2 separate regions of the Homo sapiens genome follow, and region 2 is linked to region 1. Evidence: fine-mapped expression QTL. A gene starts in region 1. The other region holds a variant in brackets. All regions are shown on one strand. Distances are between the middles of the regions.

What was found. PIP is the estimated chance that this variant, and not a neighbour inherited with it, causes the effect.
Region 2: its variant is fine-mapped to the expression of YJU2 in whole blood (TOPMed, PIP 0.98).

What each region holds. Positions count from the first base shown.
Region 1 is chr19:4,241,911-4,250,898 of GRCh38, forward strand. It overlaps YJU2 (YJU2 splicing factor homolog), which reads left to right and starts at 5,170. Exons shown (of 8, transcript NM_018074.6): 1 at 5,170-5,260; 2 at 7,318-7,418. The coding sequence starts at 5,237. RefSeq lists a silencer at 188-388 and enhancers at 567-616, 767-866, 4,230-5,001, 4,760-4,899, 5,240-5,329.
Region 2 is chr19:4,265,769-4,274,756 of GRCh38, forward strand. YJU2 (YJU2 splicing factor homolog) reads left to right here. Exons shown (of 8, transcript NM_018074.6): 7 at 1,856-2,006; 8 at 2,816-3,320. The coding sequence ends at 2,928. Among named protein-coding and RNA genes, the nearest start is that of SHD, 9.0 kb to the right of the region's middle. The variant A/G (reference allele first, on the strand shown) is at 5,266.

The DNA of each region.
Region 1 (8,988 bases):
GGCAACACCTCATTTCATCAAATCGAATTAGCTACTAAAACACCAGGTGTTTGGTCTAGGTCTTGCTGCCCTCTGCGCAGAAAGCCAATCACCGAGGCAACAAGGATTGCCAGGGAGGAATGCTTTATCCTGCCGCTGCAGTCAATGAGAAGGGGTGGTAAAGTCTCATATGTCTCCCTGACCAACTAAAATTGGGGAGTTTATATAGCTGGGGAATGGGAGAAAACAAATTCAGGGAGGGTGTTAAGGAAGTAATCTTGATGGATGATGGGGTCTGGCCTCTCATTGTCTGGATGTGATGATCTGATGAGTTTCAGTTCCTTGCCTGATGGTCAGTTTCCTGAGGAAGGAACTGAGATGAGACAAATGTAAGTTTCAAGTTTTAAGACTAGGGAGGATCCATTTCTGTGTTTATTCAAATAATCATAAGTATTCGTTTTATGGAACAATTGGACCAGTTTCAGAATGTTTCCATGAGCTGAGCAGACAACATTAGGGGTTCTTTTTCTTTCTTTTTTAAAGTCTGTTAAACCTTCCATTTTTTTTTTTTCCCGAGACAGAGTCTCTCTCTGTCACCCAGGCTGGGGGGCAGTGGCGTGGTCTTGGCTGACTGTAACCTCCGCCTCCTGGATTCAAATGATTCTCTTGCCTCTGCCTCCCAAGTAGCTGGGACTACAGGTGCCCATCATCACACCCGGCTAATTTTTGTATTTTTAGTAGAGATGGGGTTTCCCCATGTTGGCCAGGCTGGTCTTGAACTCCTGACCTCATGATCAACCCGCCTCAGCCTCCCAAAGTGCTGGGATTACAGGAATGAGGCACCATGCCCGGCCAAACCTTCCACTTTTGCAAAGCAGGTTTTATTTATTTATTTTGAGACGGAGTTTCACTCTTGTTGCCCAGGCTGGAGTGCAGTGGTGATCTCAGCTCACTGAAAAAGAGGTTGGTTTTATAGACAGAAAAAGGCTGAGTAAAGCAGAAATAGAAAACAAAAAGTGGATTGGTCTTTTCAAAGTTACTTTTCTTGTCAAGTTTAGAGCAAAGGAGACTATCGTGCTGGCTAAAACAGGCCTGTTCAGGGATTTTTTTTTTTTTTTTTTTTTGAGACAGTCTCGCTCTGTCACCCAGGCTGGAGTGTAGTGGCACAATCTTGGCTCACTGCAGCCTCCACCTCCCGGGTTCAAGCGATTCTCCTGCCTCAGCCTCCCAAGTAGCTGGGACTACAGGCGTGTGCCACCCTGCCCAGCTAATCTTTGTATTTTTAGTAGAGACAGGGTTTCACCATGTTGGCCAGGATGGTCTCAATCTCCTGACCTCGTTATCCACCCGCCTCCCAAAGTGCAGGGATTACAGGCATGAGCCACAGTGCCTGGCCTTTTTTTTTTTTTTTTTGAGACAGAATCTGGTTCTGTTGCCTAGGCTGGAGTGCAGTGGCATGATCTGGGCTCACTGCAATCTCCGCCTCCCAGGTTCAAGCAATTCTCGTGAGTCAGCCTCCCAAGTAGCTGGGATTACAGGCACCCACCACCGCACCCCGCTAATTTTTTGTATTTTAGTGGAAACGGGGTTTCGCCATGTTGGCCAGGCTGGTCTTGAACTCCCGAGCTCAGGTGATCTGCCTGCCTCTGTTCATGGATTTGACTATTCCCTCTCTTTCTCTCTCTCCCTCTCTCTCTCTCTCTCCCCACTTCCTTCCAGTTCTCGATTTCTTGGAAAACCAGAAAAACAACTTAGTTTCAGCTTGGTGTAAAACTTCCGCATGAGGGACTTCATTTTGGTTTAGTCTTTTGGGCCTAGTGCAGGAGCTCAGTCCAAACCCATGGCTTCCTGTAAACTTTATTTAACACCATTCCTTGTCCCATATTATTGTCTTCCTGGTGCCAGGAAAAGGGGTCCCTAGCTGGGTGTGGTGGCTCACACCTGTAATCCCAGCACTTTGGGAGGCTGAGGTGGGTGGATCACCTCTTGAACACCTCAGGAGTTCAAGACCAGCCTGACCAACATGGAGAAACCCCGTCTCTACTAAAAATACAAAATTAGCCGGACGTGGTGGCACATGCTTTTAATCCCAGCTACTTGGGAGGCTGAGGTAGGAGAATAGCTTGAACCTGGGAGACGGAGGTTGCGGTGAGCCGAGATTGTACCATTGCACTCCAGCCCGGGCAACAAGAGCAAAACTCCTCAAAAAAAAAAAAAAAAAAAAAAAAAAAGGAAGGCTACTCAGTTACAAAGTAGGGCGTCCTCAGAAAACAAGAGGAGGAACGCCTTGTCTTTGTTTTAAGGTTTTTATTTTTATTTTATTTATTGATTTATTTTTGAGATGGAGTCTTGCTCTGTCACCCAGGTACAATGGCACGATCTTGGCACGATCTTGGCTCACTGCAACCTCCACCTGCCAGGTTCAAGCGATTCTCCTGCTTCAGTCTCCTGAGTAGTTGGGATTCAGGCATGTACCACTGCGCCCAGCTAATTTTTATATTTTTAGTAGAGACGAGGTTTTACCGTGTTGGCCAGGCTGGCCTTGAACTCCTGAGCTCAAGTGATCCTCCCACCTCGGCCTCCCAAAGTGTTGGGATTACAGGTGTGAGCCACCATGTACAACCGGTTTTTTCTTATATAGGGGTCTTATCTGTGTGAAAGCTATGTCCACGTGTAGGTGGGCTGACCGCGTGACAAAACGTAGTACTTTGTCGACTTAAAGAAAGTTATCCTGGCTGGGTGCAGTGGCTCACACCTGTAATTGTAACACTTTGGTAGGCCGAGGCCGGCAGATCACTTCAGCCCAGGATTTCCAGACCAGCTTGGGCAACATGGCGAAACCCTGTCTCTACAAAAACTGCCAAATATTAGCCAGGTGTGGTGGTACCTATAGTTCCAGCTAACTCGGAAGGCTGAGGTGGGGGATCGCCTGAGCCGGGAAGTGGAGGCCACAGAGAGCCATGATTGCGTTACTGCACTCCAGCCTAGGTGACAGAGCGAGACCCTGTCTCAAAAAGTATACATACATATCCTTGCCATTTTAGTGCCTAAGTACATTACACCATGACTATAACCATATTTTCTTTTTTTTTTTTTGAGATGGAGTTTCACTCTTGTCACCCAGGCTGGAGTGCAATGGCGCCATATCGACTCACCGCAACCTCTGCCTCCCAGGTTCAAGTGATTCTCCTGCCTCAGCCTCCCAAGCAGCTGGGATTACAGGCATGCACCACCATGCCCGGCTAATTTTGTATTTTTAGTAGAGACAAGATTTCTTCATGTTGGTCTGGTTGGTCTTGAACTCTCGACCTGCACCACCGCACCTGGCTAATTTTGCATTTTTAGTAGAGACGGGGTTTCTCCGTGTTGGTCTGATTGGTCTTGAACTCCTGACCTCAGGTGATTCGCCCACGTCGGCCTCCCAAAGTGCTGGGATTACAGGCGTAAGCCACCATGCCCGGTATCTTTTTCTTTTTTTTCTCTTTTTTTTTTTTTTTGAGATGGAGTCTCACTCTGTCGCCCAGGCCACAGGGCAGCGGCACAATCTCGATCTCAGTTCACTGCAACCTCAGCCTCCTGGGTTCATGCAATTCTCCTGCCTCAGCCTCCCAAGTAGCTGGGATTACAGGTTCCCGCCACCACGCCCGGCTAATTTTTGTATTTTTAGTAGAGATGGGGTTCCACCATGGTGGCCATGGTGACCAGGCTGGTCTCGAACTCCTGACCTCAGGTGATCCACCCTCCTTGGCCTCCCAAAGTGCTGGGATTACAGGCATGAGCCACCGCGCCTGGCGACTATAACGATCTTAAAAGCATACATTGCTATGCAATATCAGGACATCTGGACCTTCCATTGTTGTAGTAGTGTGTCCTCCTAGGCATTTGTAAGACGTTTTCTCAATTGTAAACATCTTATGACCCTGGCTCGTGACTGGCAGCGAATGTGCCTTGTTAATTTTAAGATGGAGTTGATTTTTGGCCAGGTGCAGTGGCTCATGCCTGTAATCCCAGCACTTTGGGAGGCAGAGGCGAGCAGATCACCTGAGGTCAGGAGTTCGAGACCTGCCTGGCCAAAATGGTGAAACCCCATCTCTACTAAAACTACAAAAATTAGGCAGGTGTGGTGGTGCGTGCCTGTAATCCCAGCTACTCGGGAGGTTGAGACAGGAGAATCACTTGAATCCTGAGGTGGAGGTTGCAGTGAGCCAAGATCGCACCACTGGAGGCAGAGGTTGCAGTGAGCCAAGATCGCACCACTGCCCGTCAGCCTGGGCAACAGAGCAAGACTCCTCAAAAGATAAATAAATAAACAAACAATTGCCACAGCAACATCAAGAAGTTACCCTATATGGTCTAAAAAAGGGAGGTATGAATAATCCACCCCTTGTTTAGCATATCATCAATAAATCACCATAAACATGGGCAACCACCAGCCCTTGGGGCTGCTTTGTCTGTGAAGTAGCCATTCTTTTATTCATCTACTTTCTAAATAAACTTGTTTTTGCTTTGCACTGTGGACTCGCCCTGAATTCCTTCTTGCACGAGATCCAAGAACCCTCTCCTGGGGTCTGGATCCGGACCCCTTTCCTGGAACAATCTGACACAGAGGAAACGTCCATGAAAGGTGGGGAGGAGGCTGGGGAAGGAGGCTGGGGAAGGAATGGGATGGGAAGTCCTCGTTAAGGGGAAGGCACAGGTGGGCAATGGAGGGACATTTGGGAGACACTGCGTATGTTTAGGAAGTTGGTTTGGAGCCTGATCTTTAAGTCAATGTCTGTGACTCAAGAGTCGTCCAGGGTCCTCTTAAGTCACCCTATGTGTGGCCCCAACCCCATGTGAGAGTTGCGGGCCCAGGAACGATGTGTGGATTCCCAGAGCCCAGAATACAAGGCAGGCGCATAATACATATTTGCTGAATAAAAGAATGAAGAACAAGAGGTCACGTTACAAAATTTTAACGAGCCGCTGCCCGCTTCTAGGGGGCGCAGCGCACTATACAAAATTCTCCAATTCCACATGGCTCCCGGAATCCTTATTTCGCGCTACTCAGGTTGCAACTCCGGAGGGAAGACGCTGGGACTTCCAGCTTGATAGGCGGGGATTGGAACCAATGAAAGAGGTCTGCTGTGTATGCTGCAGCCAATAATAGCGGCCGAAGGAAGTGACGTTTGCGGAAGTAAGGCTTCCGTCGGAAAAGCTCGATAATTACCCAGCCTAACCATTTCTCAGGTGCTTGCGAGGTGATCAGAAGGCAAAGATGTCGGAGCGAAAAGTATTAAACGTAAGTGTTGGGCGACTGGGGCTTTTCAATCGGAGCAGGACATCCCGGAACTCCGGGAGAGGGAGGAGCTTCCTGAGATCTCTTCTTTGGAACCCTTCTTTCCCAGCGGCCTTCCGCGAGATGGGGCTTCCCAGACTCCTCCCTAGACTCCTCCCCATCGCCTTCCGTCGGGGGGGTGGGCCTTCGCTAAGTCTCCCTTCTGGGCTGGGGTGTAGTTAGTCACCTGCGGGGCGTGGCTTGGGCTTTTACCCAATCACCACCAGATAGGGTTTTTTTTCTGGGGGCGGGGCTTCCTTAAATGCTGGCGGCCGTGTTTTGCCCTCTTCTTGAGGGGCGTGGCTCTGAGAAGCCCCGCCCCACTTGGGGACTGTAACCAATCGTGTACTTTGGGTGGGGTGGGGTGGGGTGGCGCGTGTGTGTGTGTGTGTGTGTGTGTGTGTGTGTGTGTGTGTGTGTGTGTGTGTGTGTGTGTGTGTGTGTGTGTGTGTGTGTGTGTGTGTGTGTGTGTGTGTGTGTGTGTGTGTGTGTTTTGTTTTTTTTACTGGGGTCTGGTCATGCAGATAACCTCTGCCTTACAGTGGCCAAGATTTTACTGGGGTCTGGTCATGCAGATAACCTCTGCCTGACAGTGGCCAAGATTCCAGACTCCCAGAAGAAAAGCAGAGGTTCAGTATAAACTATACTGTTGGCACACTTCTGTTTTTTGGTTTTTTGAGATGGAGTTTTGCGCTTGCTTCCCAGGCTGGAGTGCAGTGGCACGTTCTTGGCTCACTGCAGCTTCTGCCTCCTGGGTTCAAGCGATTCTCCTGCCTCAGCCTCCTGAGTAGCTGGGACTGCAGGCGCCCGCCACCATGCCTGGTTAATTTTTTTTGTATTTTAGTAGAGATGAGATTTCACCATGTTGCCCAGGGTGGTTTTGAACTCTTGATCTCAGGCATTCCACCCACCTCATACTCCCAAAGTGCTGGAATTACAGGCGTGAGCCACCGCGCCCGGCCCCACGCAGGTCTTTCTAGGAGAGCAGTCTCAGGCTTGCTGTAGGAACTCCTGGGAAACAGGAGCCCTGGGATACAAAGGGAGTGTGAGTATGGATTATGACAGATACCTCCACTGCACCACTGGAAAATAAAGCACTTTGTGTTTGGAGCACCTACTGGGTGCCAGACACTGCAAAGAGCACTTTATCCCCCTTGCCTCAAGGAATGCGTGCAAAGACTCTTGGAGACAGAGGACAGTGTGCGCATTTCACAGAGGAGTAAACTGAGCCCTGCAGGTTTCAGCTCCTCAGGATTCAGATCCAGGGAGATGACTCTGTAGGAAACGGATGTAGTATCGTGATTGGGAGGCTGAGCTAACAGAGTCCTGGTTTACCCTCTACAGAATTGCTGGGGAGTTGGGACTCCTCGGGGAACTCGGTCTCCTGCCTGAACAACAGAAGTGCTAAGCAAAGCTTAACCTCTACAAAGGGCAGGGCATGATGGCTCACGTGTGTAATACCAGCTCTTTGGGAGGCCAAGGCAGGTGGATCACCTGAGGTCAGGAGTTCGAGACTAGCCTGGCCAACATGGTGAAACCCCATCTCTACTAAAAATACAAAAATTAGCGGGGAGTGGTGGTGGGCGCCTGTAATCCCAGCTACTGTAGAGGCTGAGGCAGGAGAATCGCTTGAACCCAGGAGGCGGAGGTTGCAGTGAGCCAAGATCGCGCCACTGGACTCCAGCCTGGGCAACAAGAGCAAAACTCCGTCTCAGAACAAAAACAAAAACAAACCCTGGCTTTTTAGAGCTTCCCGTGTAGACAGCATTTCATGTGTATTGTCATGACTGGTATTTAGGAGAATTAAATGCGTCCTGTATAACTCCACTAGGAGAGAGTCAGGAAGCTTGTGCCTGGCCTCCCTCTGACTGTACTGAGTCCTGCGAGTCCTCCCTGCCTGTCGCGGAACCTGGGGTGGGCTTGGGGACCCCCGACACAGCTCCCCAGAGCCCCTTCCCTCTGCCATGTCCTGCCCCTGCTTCTGAAAATAACTCCCCCAACGTTTCCTTCCTCCCCTGCAGAAATACTACCCGCCGGACTTTGACCCATCAAAGATCCCCAAACTCAAGCTCCCCAAAGACCGGCAGTACGTGGTGCGGCTGATGGCCCCCTTCAACATGAGGTGAGCACCCCCTGCGTGACCCCACACACCAGTCATGGCTGAAGGACGCAGTGCCTGGCATCCACAGAGGTGACTCGTCCGGTGTTAAGACCAGATCACTGGTCTTAGACATTGTCCTGGCTCAGACATTGACCATTCCAACCCTCCTTCGCCTCACCACTTGGGATTAAGCTTTGGATCTTTTAGAGCCCTCCAGCCAGTGCCTGCCTTGAGATCATGGTGGTTAGTAAACGTGTGTGCAGAGAGGATAGGACGCCACAGAGATGCAGCCCCATAGATATATTTCAGCTCCTCCAACAGCCAAGCTCGTTCCTACCCCAGGGCCTTTGCACACACTGCTGCCCCTGCTTGGAACTCTCTCCCTCTACTTTCTTTCTTTCTTTTTTTTTTTTTGTTGAGACAGAGTCTTGCCGTGTTGCCCAGGCTGGAGTGCAGTGGCGTGATCTCAGCTCACTGCAACCTCCACCTCCTGGCTTCAAGCGATTCTCCTGCCTCAGCCTCCCAAGTAGCTGGGATTACAGGCGTGCACCACCACGCCCGGCTAATTTTTGTATTTTCAGTAGAGTTGGTGTTTTACCATGTTGGCCAAGCTGGTCTCGAACTCCTGACCTCAGGTGATCTGCCCTCCTTGGCCTCCCAAAGTGCTGGGATTGCAGGCGTGAGCTGCCGCACCTGGCCTTCTCCTTCTACTTACACATGGCAGGCTCCTCTTGTCTGCCATAGGTCATGGCTCCAATCTCACCCCTCCGGGAGGCCTCCATCATCCCCTCACGGTGCCCAGATCTTGCCTTTTGTAGCACTTCAGAATTACTGTATTTCACCAACTCTCAACCCCATACCTTTTCATGCTCTAGCATATCTGAAATCACGCACCTAACGAGGAAAGAGACATCTGGGTCAGTGAAATTCGGTTCATGCCCATGTGTTGTTGGCCTGTCTACTCCTCCCCCTCATTCATTCATTTATTCATTCAACACTCATTTATTGGGCACCTGCTGTGTGCCAGGGTCTGTGCCGAGCGCCAGGAACAAAGTCCCTGGCCTCATGGAGCCCACAGTCTAATGGGAAGTGGAGAATAGTGGTAGTCAGGCAGGTGCACGGGCCCCCGAAGTCAGGCAGGAGAGAGCCCCTGGGGCAGTGGCGCAGGAGGGAGGGCTATAGGTAGCTGGGGTACGGTGACATCAGGCAAAATACTGGTGGCGCTGAGGTCTGAGGATGAAGGGTGTCGCCGGCCATGAGACTGTAGGAGCAGAGGCCTTGAGCTGGGACTGAGCTGGGGGTGTTTGCAGGATCAGACAGGAGGCGGGCGTGCTGGGCTGGGGAGCAGAGCCCGGAGTAGGAGGGGAAGAGGGGGGTGGGGCAGCATTTTTCTGTGTGGCATCTTTCCTCCTGGAGGGTGGGGTGCCCCGTAAGCACAAAGATTGCTTCTGGGAGTGCATGACAGGCAGGCCTCACCTACTCAGGGGGCTTCCCAAGCAGGCGACCCTTGGACTGAGCCCCAGGAAGATATGAATGAGAACACGAAGTTCTCAGGTAGAGGAAATTTGGACACAGGGTGGGGCAGCCTGCC
Region 2 (8,988 bases), 24 kb after region 1:
TTTTTATTAATAAAGAGACGGGGTTTCACCATGTTGACCAGGCTGGTCTCGAACTCTTGACCTCAAGTGGTCCACCCGCCTCGGCCTCCCAAAGTGTTGGGATTACAGGTGTGTGCCTCTGTGCCTGGCCATCTGTGCCTTTTGACTTCTTTTCCTCATTTTGACATCAGCCCAGAGCTACGACATTTTTTTTTTTTTTTTTCGAGACGGCGTCTCGCCCTGTCACCCAGGCTGGAGTGCAGTGGCACGATCTCGGCTCACTGCAACCTCTGCCTCCCAGGTTCAAGCGATTCTCCTGCCTCAGTCTCCCGAGTAGCTGGGATTACAGGCGTGTGCCACCAAGCCTGGCTAATTTCTTGTATTTATAGTAGAGACGGGCTTTCACCGTGTTAGCCAGGATGGTCTCTATCTGACCTCGTGATCCACCTGCCTTGGCCTCCCAAAGTGCCGGGATTAGAAGCATGAGCCACTGCGCCCGGCCCAGAGCCACAACTTTAAGGAGGCCTCTCCACCACCTTAGCAGTGGCCGCCCCTCACACCGTCAGCTTGGCACTCAAGGTCTCTGCCCATTCTCCATCCCACCTAGCCTGCCCTGGCACTTCCTGAATCACACTGTGGCTTCTCATCACGCCTTTACCCATGCCATTCCCCTTACCTGGGATGCCCCCTTTGCCAAGCACTCGCTTGGTGAACTCCTACTCGCCCTTCAATACCCAATGCAAGACGCCCTTCCTCTGAGAAGCTCATCCTCACAATTCAAGCTCACGCACCCTGGCTTCTCTCTCACCCAGATGGATGTTATCCTGGGTATTGGTCTCCTTGTCCCTCTCCCTCCCCACACGGTGAGCTCCGTGAGGGCAGAGCACCCATTGGGACTTCCTTAACCCAGTGGTTACCACTTCCTCTATTTAAACATAAAACAGATTGAAGAGGCTAGATGCAGTGGCTCACGCCTGTCATCCCAGCTCTTTGGGACGCTGAGACGGGAGGATCGCTTGAGCCAGGAGTTTGAGACCAGCCTGGGCAACATAGCGAGATCCCGTCTCTACAAAAATTAAAAATGTTAGCCTGCCATGGTGGCGTGCACCTGCAGGAGGCTGAGGCAGGAGAATCGCTTGAGCCCAGGAGTTCGAGGCTGCAGTGAGCTATGATTGCACCACTGCACTCCAGCCTGGGCAATAGAGTGAGACCTTCCCCCCAAAAAAATTTTTTTAATAATATAGATTAAAGGGTCCCTTCTGTTGCAGTTAAGGAGCTGGAGGCCTTTTCTACCTGCCCCTAACTCTTTCTCAAGGCGGCTTCCTCCATTTTCACTCGTTCTCTCAAGTACATTGAGCACCTCCTTGTGCCAGGAACTGTTTGTGGCACCGCAGAGCCAGCAGTGGGGAAGACAGGAGCTCACGGCAGAGTTGGGGAGAGAGTTATAACAGCCAGCAGAGGGCACTGTGAGCGTGGACATGCAGCCTGCATGTGAGCTTGAACCATGATGGGCTTCTCAGAGGAGGGGTGTCTTGTGTTGGGTATTGAAGGGTGAGTAGGAGTTCACCAAGCGAGTGCATGGAAAAGGGGGCATCCCTGGTGAAGGGAATAGCATGGGTAAAGGCGTGGAGATGAGAAGCCATGGTGTGACTCAGGAAGTGCCAGACCAGGCTATGTGGGATGGAGAATGGGCAGAGGCCTTGAGTGCCAAGCCTAGGGCAGTGGGGAGCCATAGAGGAGTTTAGAGCAGAGGAGGAATGTGGTCAGTGCAGCAGTGGAAGAGTGGGCATGGGGCAGTGAGCAGGGGTTGTGGCGAGGGGCCAGACTGGGCCCTGGATCCGGGCCAGACCCCCACATGTGTCCCCATCACCTGCAGGCCCCAAAGCCCAAGAGGAAGGTGGAGGTCTGGGAGCAGAGCGTTGGCAGCCTGGGCAGCCGGCCCCCGCTGTCGAGGCTGGTCGTGGTGAAGAAGGCAAAGGCCGACCCGGACTGCAGCAACGGGCAGCCTCAGGCGGCCCCCACCCCAGGTAAGGTCACAGAGTTCCCAGAGCCGGGCGCGGTTTCTATAGTGGCCTGTAGGTGGCAGCAGCTCCCTTTGCAGTTACAGAGACTTCATGGGGTGGGTGGGGGCGGCCTGCGACCCCCACAGGACCAATTAGTGGAGTGAGCAGAGAAGGCAGGCGGCTTCTTTTTTTCTTTTTTCTTTTTTCTTTTTTTTTTTTTGAGACAGAGTCTTGCTCTGTTGCCCAGGCTGGAGTGCAGTGGTGCCATCTCGGCTCACCGCAACCTCCGCCTCCCTGGTTTGAGCAGTTCTCTGCCTCAGCCTCCCAAGTAGCTGGGACTACAGCACCACGCCCGGCTAAATTTTTGTATTATTAGTAGAGGTGGGATTTCTCCATGTTGGTCAGGCTGGTCTGGAACTCCCGACCTCAGGTGATCCACTCACCTCGGCCTCCCAAAATGCTGGGATTACAGGCATGAGCCACCGCGCCCGGCCTGTTTTTGTCTTTTAGTTGCCTTAGTATGATGTTTCCTAAGGCGATTAAGTCCACAGTGACTGGACTGTGAACTTTGCGCCATTTCCATTCTTGGCAGCGCACGTTGCCTGCCTGGGCAAGGTTTGCATTGGCCATTGTTCAGAAGCGGAGCTGTTGAGTCCCGGGTGTGCAGATGTAAATCTGCAATGGGTCCCATCAGGTGCCATCCAGAAAGGCCAGGCCATTCACATGCTGTCACCTCTGGACCTTGCAAACCTGCAGAGGTGGCCGGCCCCGTGCCTTGTCCCTGGCCTGTCTGCTGTGGAGCTGAGATGAGCTAACTCTCGCTCTCCCACCAGGAGCCCCGCAGAACAGGAAGGAGGCCAACCCTACACCCCTGACGCCTGGCGCGTCCTCCCTGAGCCAACTGGGTGCATACCTGGACAGTGACGACAGCAACGGCAGCAACTGAGCCCTCCCAGGACCCCCTCACGGGGTCAAAGTCACACGTCCAGCTTCAGCCACATTGAGGCCAGCATTGCTGGTGGTCAGGGCAGGAGGCCTTGGCGTGACTGGAGGCCGGACAGACAAGCGCCAGCGTGCTCCAACACATAGGGCCACCAGGGGCCTCAGCCCCAGGAGGTCCCTTCTCTGTGCCCTCACCAGCCTCTCAACACCTCGGGGACCCCTGCTGCTCCTGCCCCCACCTGTCACTGTGCTTAGGGCTGCAACATCCCTGGAGCAGCTTCCAACACTACTTCAGGGTGGCAGTGTTTGGGGCACTGGGCGAGCCTGCCGGCCTCTAGATGGCCTCATCTCTTCCTTCCACAAACTGTCTAGAACCAATAAAAGGAAACCTGCCAACCGCCTGGGCCCCTTCTCTCTCCCAGAGTCTGATGAGGAGGTCCCAGGACCTCCTCTGTTAGCACAATTCGAGGGTCATTCCACAGAGGTTTGTTTGTGTCTTGAGACAGGATCTCACTCTGTTGCCCAGGCTGGAGTGCGGTAGCGTATTCTTGACTCACTGCAGCCTTGAACTTCCGAGCTCAGGTGATCCTCCCACCTCAGCCTCGCGAGTCGCTGAGACCTCAGGTGGATGCCACCATTCCTGGCTAACTTTTTGTATATTTAGTAGAGACTGGGTTTCATCATGTTGCCCAGGCTGATCTTGAACTCATGGGCTCAAGTGATCCTCCTGCCTCAGCCTCACAAAGTGCTGGGGTCACAGGCATAAGCCACTGTAACAGGCATGAGCCCAGATATTTATATTTAGTTGTCGCCTGAGTGTGCATCTGGGCTCTTTTTGTTTTCTCTTCTTTTTTTTTTTCTTTCTTTACCTTTTTTTTTTTTTTTTTTTTTTGGAGACGACGTCTCGCTCTTGTCCCCCAGGCTGGAGTGCGATGGCGCGATCTTGGCTCACTGCAACCTCCGCCTCCCGGGTTCAAGCGATTCTCCTGCCTCAGCCTCCAGAGTAGCTGGGATTACAGGCGCCCGCCACCACGCCTGGCTTAATTTTTGTATTTTTAGTAGAGACAGGGTTTCACCATGTTGGCCAGGCTGGTCTTGAACTCCTGACCTCAGGTGATCTGCCTGCCTCAGCCTCCCAAAGTGCTAAGATTACAGGCCTGAGCCATTGTGCCCTGCCTGTACAATCTTTTTGTTTGTTTGTTTGAGACAGAGTCTCCCTCTGTTGCCCAGGCTAGAGTGCAGTGGTGTGATCTTGGCTCACTGCAACCTCCACCTCCCAGGTTCAAGCAATTCTCTGCCTCAGCCTCCCCAGCAGCTGGGATTACAGGTGCCTGCCACCACGCCCAGCTAATTTTTGTGTTTTTAGTAGAGACGGGTCTCACCATCTTGGCCAGGCTGGTCTTGAACTCCTGACCTCAGGTGATCTGACTGCCTCAGCCTCCCAAAGTGCAGGGATTACAGGCGTGAGACACTGCACCAGCCTGGAATCTTTTAAAGTGAACAATATGAACCTTCTTTGAGTAGGCAGTTCCATTTCTGGCTGTCTGTTCTAAGAGGTATTTGCCCACATTCATAAGGAAACACCCACGAGGAGGTTTGTCGTGACACTGTGTTTAGCAGCAACATTATGGGGAACGAACCCAATGTCCCCAGTAGGTGAAGGCTGAACTCTGGCATAAATAATGGAATTCCAGCCGGGTGTGGTGGCTCAGGCCTGGAATCCCAGCTACTTGGGAGGCTGAGGTGGGAGGATCACTTGAGCCCGGGAGATTGAGGCTGCAGTGAGGTGTAACTGTACCACTGCACTCCAGCCTTGGTGAGAGACCAAGATCCTGCCTGAAAAAGGGGGAGGGGGGTGGGGAGCTAGGCCCAGGACAGGAACTGTGGCATGTTCCTGTAATCCCAGGACTTTGGGGGGCTGAGGCAGGAGGGTTGGTTGAAGACAGGAGGTCGAGTCCAGACTGGGCAACATGGCCAGACCGTTTCTCAATTTGTCTTTTTTTAAAGAAAGGTGGGGCACGGTGGCTCACGCATGTAATCCCAGCACTTTGGGAGGCCACGGCGGGCAGATCACCTGAGGTCAGGAGTTCAAGACCAGCCTGGCCAACATGGTGAGACTCCCACCACCCCCACTAAAAATAAAAAAATTAGTCAGATGTGGTGGCGGGCACCTGTAATCCCAGCTAATTGGTAGGCTGAGGCAGGAGGATCACTTGAACCTGGAAGGTGGAGGTTGCAGTGAGCTGAGATCATGCCACTGCACTCCAGCCTGGGCAACAGAGTGAGATTCCATCTCAAAAAATAATTAATTAAAAAAAAAGATGCTACAATTTGCCTTCAA[A/G]GGGGCTGCGCTCTACATACTCAACAAGGATGGGACTCACTGGCTTTATGAGTAGAAAGCTCTGGCTGGGAAGTTCCCCTCCTCGGCGGGGGCAGCAGAAGGAGTTGGCAGAGGGAAGGAAGGAACCTGTGTTTATCAAATGTTCCCTGAGCATTTGGCAGAAACAAAGTTGAACTCCCACTTCCAACACCCGTTCTTATTTTAATTTTAATTTTTTTTTTTTTTGAGACAGCATCTCACTCTATCACCCCCGCTGGAGTGCAGTGGCAGGATCTCGGCTCACTGCAACCTCCGCCTCCCGGGTTCAAGCGATTCTCCTGCCTCAGCCTCCAGAGTAGCTGGGATGACAGGCACGCGCCACCCTGCCTGGCTTAATTTTTGTATTTTTAGTAGAGATGGGGTTTTGCCATGTTGCCAGGCTGGTCTCGAACTCCTGACCTCAAGTGATTCGCCCGCCTCAGCTCCCAAACTGCTGGGATTACAGGCGTGAGCTACCGCACCCGGCCCCCAAAAAACTTTTATGTATTATATATTTTTACAATAACATATAAATAATGTATACCGAAGGTGGTGAAAATAAAGCAGGTGAGTGTGTTCTAAGGAGATGCAGAGGGGATGCCTTGGGAACGTGTTTATTGCCCATCTCTCCCTCTGTTTGTTTTCTGGTGCTGCATAACAAATTATACCAAAACTGAACAACTTAAAAACAACATAGAGCTGGGTGTGGTTTCATTGGGTCTCCCGCTTTAAGGTTTAGCAAGAATGCAATCAAGACAGAGGCCAGGCTGGGCGCAGTGGCTCATGGCTGTAATCCCACCACTTTCACAGGCCGAGGCGGGCGGATCACTTGAGGTCATGAGTTCAAGACCAGCCTGGCCAACATGGCAAAACCCTGTCACTACAAAAAAGTACAAAAATTAGTTGGGCATGGTGGTACATGCCTGTAATTCCAGCTACTTGGGAGGCTGAGACAGGAGAATCACTTGAACCCAGGAGGCAGAGGTTGCAGTGAGCCAAGATTGCACCACTGCACTCCAGCCAGGGGGACAGAGCGAGACTCCCGTCTCAAAGAAAAAAAAAAAAAAAAGACACAGGCCCAGGCTGGGGTGTCATCTGAAGGCTCAACTGGGGAAGGACCTGCTGCCAAACCTTTGTGGTTGTTGACAGAATTCAGTCCCTCATGGCTGTTGGCCAGAAAACACTCTCAGTTTCTTACCTACACAGACCTTGTCTGCAGCTTGTGTCTTTGTCCATTTGCTGCTGCTTTCACAGAACACCACAGACTGGGTAAATTATAAACAGTAGAAGTTTATTCGGGCCGGGCGCAGCGGTTCACACCTGTAATCCCAGCACTTTCAGAGGCTGAGGTAGGTGTATCACCTGAGGTCAGGAGTTTGAGACCAGCCTGCCCAACATGGTGAAACTCTGTCTCTACTAAAAATACAAAAATTAGCCGGGCATGGGGCAGGTGCCTGTAATCCCAGCTACTCCAGAGGCCGAGGCAGGAGAATAACTTGAACCCGGGAGGCAGAGGTTGCAGTGAGCCAAGATTATGCCATTGCACTCCATCCAGCTTGGACAACAGAGTGAGACTCCATCTCAAAAAAATTGGTGCACCCCAGCACCCCAAAACCAGCTGGCACATCGTGGGTGCTCGCAAATGGGTTGAGGGGGCATCACCCCATTCCCCAATGAGGAAACAGGCTCAGGGAGCCCCAGGTTTCACCTCCTCCCCTCTCACACCCCACTCTTTCATACACCACTGGAATTTTATTTTTATTTCTTTTTTTTTTCCCCTGAGAAGCTTTGTTCTCTCACCCTGTGTCCTGGGGGCAATTCTGCTCTCAGCCCCCAGTTCTCTCCTGGGGGTTCCCAGGACTGAGGGAGTAGAGGGGCAGGCACAGCCATGCATCGGGCTCTGTCCCTCCTGACCAGCGGGGGACCCCTCCCTGCCCTGCCCCACCTCTCAGGGCCCCCTACCCTCACCCTCTGAAGCCTGCCCTTCCCCTATCCCTGCCGACAGTACCCGTTCCCCACCAGCCCGCGTCTGTCATCCTGTCTTCGGGAGCTGTCAGCCTTCATCTGAGATCTCCATCAACTCCTCCGGGGCTGCCTGGCTGCTGGAGCACATCAGAGGGATGGGGAGGAGGGGCGATGGGGGCCCCTTCTGCTGGAGCCCACTGCCGCCCCAGCCTGGGCTTACAGGAGAAGAGGGGCCATGCCATTTCCCCAGCTTTTGCCAGTTCCAGTGTGAACTTGGGGCTCCCTGAGCCTGTTTCCTTATCTGGGAATGGGGTGACACCACCCACTCAGTCCACAAACACCCCCCGGGCACACGCTCTGTTGCTGCCCCATTTACAGGTAAGGGAGACTCCTCGACCTCCAGGGTGAGGGAGGGACAGGGCCTGGGTATGAAGCTCCAGGCTCCGAGGCTACGCCTTTGGTCACCCACCCCACTGCAACCCCAAGAGCTGGGCTGTGCCTGCGTGTCAGACTGGAGCCCTGGAAGGGCTGGATCATGCCTCCCCCATCAGGTAGGGGCCCCTAGAAGGAAGGCTCGCTTCTCCTCCAGCAGACTGGGACCTTGTAAGTTAGTTAGGGCCATGCCTCCTGTGTTGGACTGGGCCCTTGAAATTTACACCATACCTCCCCCATCAGACTGGGGACGCTTGAAGTTTGGACTATGCCTCCCTCATCAGACTGGGGACTCTTGAAGGCAGGCCTATGTCTCCTCCATTACTCTGGGACCCTGGAAGTCAAGACTATGTCTCCTGCATTAGACAGGGGACCGTTGAAGGTTGAACCTGCCTCCCCCATCAGACTGAAGATAGGTTCACGTCTCCTTCCTCAGAGTGGGAACCCCTCAAGGTAGGGCCATATCTCTCCCATCAAATGGAAGCTCCTGAAGTCAGAGCCGCAACTCTTCCATCAGACTGGGGGCTTCTGTGGACAAGGCCATGCCTCTGCCATCAGACCGTGAGTTAAGAAAGGCAGAGCTGGCCAGGTGCAGTGGCTCACGCCTGTAATCCCAGCACTTTGGGAGGCCGAGGCGGGCGGATCACGAGATCAGGAGATCGAGACCATCCTGGCTAACACAATGAAGCCAAGATTGCGCCACTGCACTCCAGCTTGGACGACAGAGCGAAACTCTGTCTCAAAAAAAAAAAAAAAAAAAAGACAGAGCTGGCTAGGCACAGTGGCTCATGCCTGTAATCCCAGCACTTTGGGAGGCCAAGGCGGGCGGATCACAAGGTCAGGAGTTCAACACCAGCCTGGCCAACATGGTGAAACCCCGTCTCTACTAAAAGTACAAAACTTAGCCAGGCATGGTGGCATGCACCTGTAATCCCAGCTACTCCAGAGACTGAGGCAGGAGAATCGCTTGAAACAGGAAGCGGGAGGTTGCAGTGAGCCAAGGTCATGCCACTGCACTCCAGCCTGGGCAACAAGAGTGAAACTCCATCTCAAAAAAAAAAAAGGCAGAGCTGGCCAGGCGCAGTGGCTCACGCCTGTCATCCCAGCACTTTGGGAGGCCAAGGCTGGCATATCACCGGAGGTCAGGAGTTCAAGACCAGCCTGGCCAATGTGGTGAAATCCTGTCTCTACTAAAAATAAAAAATTAGCTAAGTGCAGTGGCACACACCTGTAGTCCCAGCTACTTGGGAGGCTAAGGCAGGAGAATCGCTTGAACCCAGGAGGCGGAAGTTGCAGTGGGCCAAGATT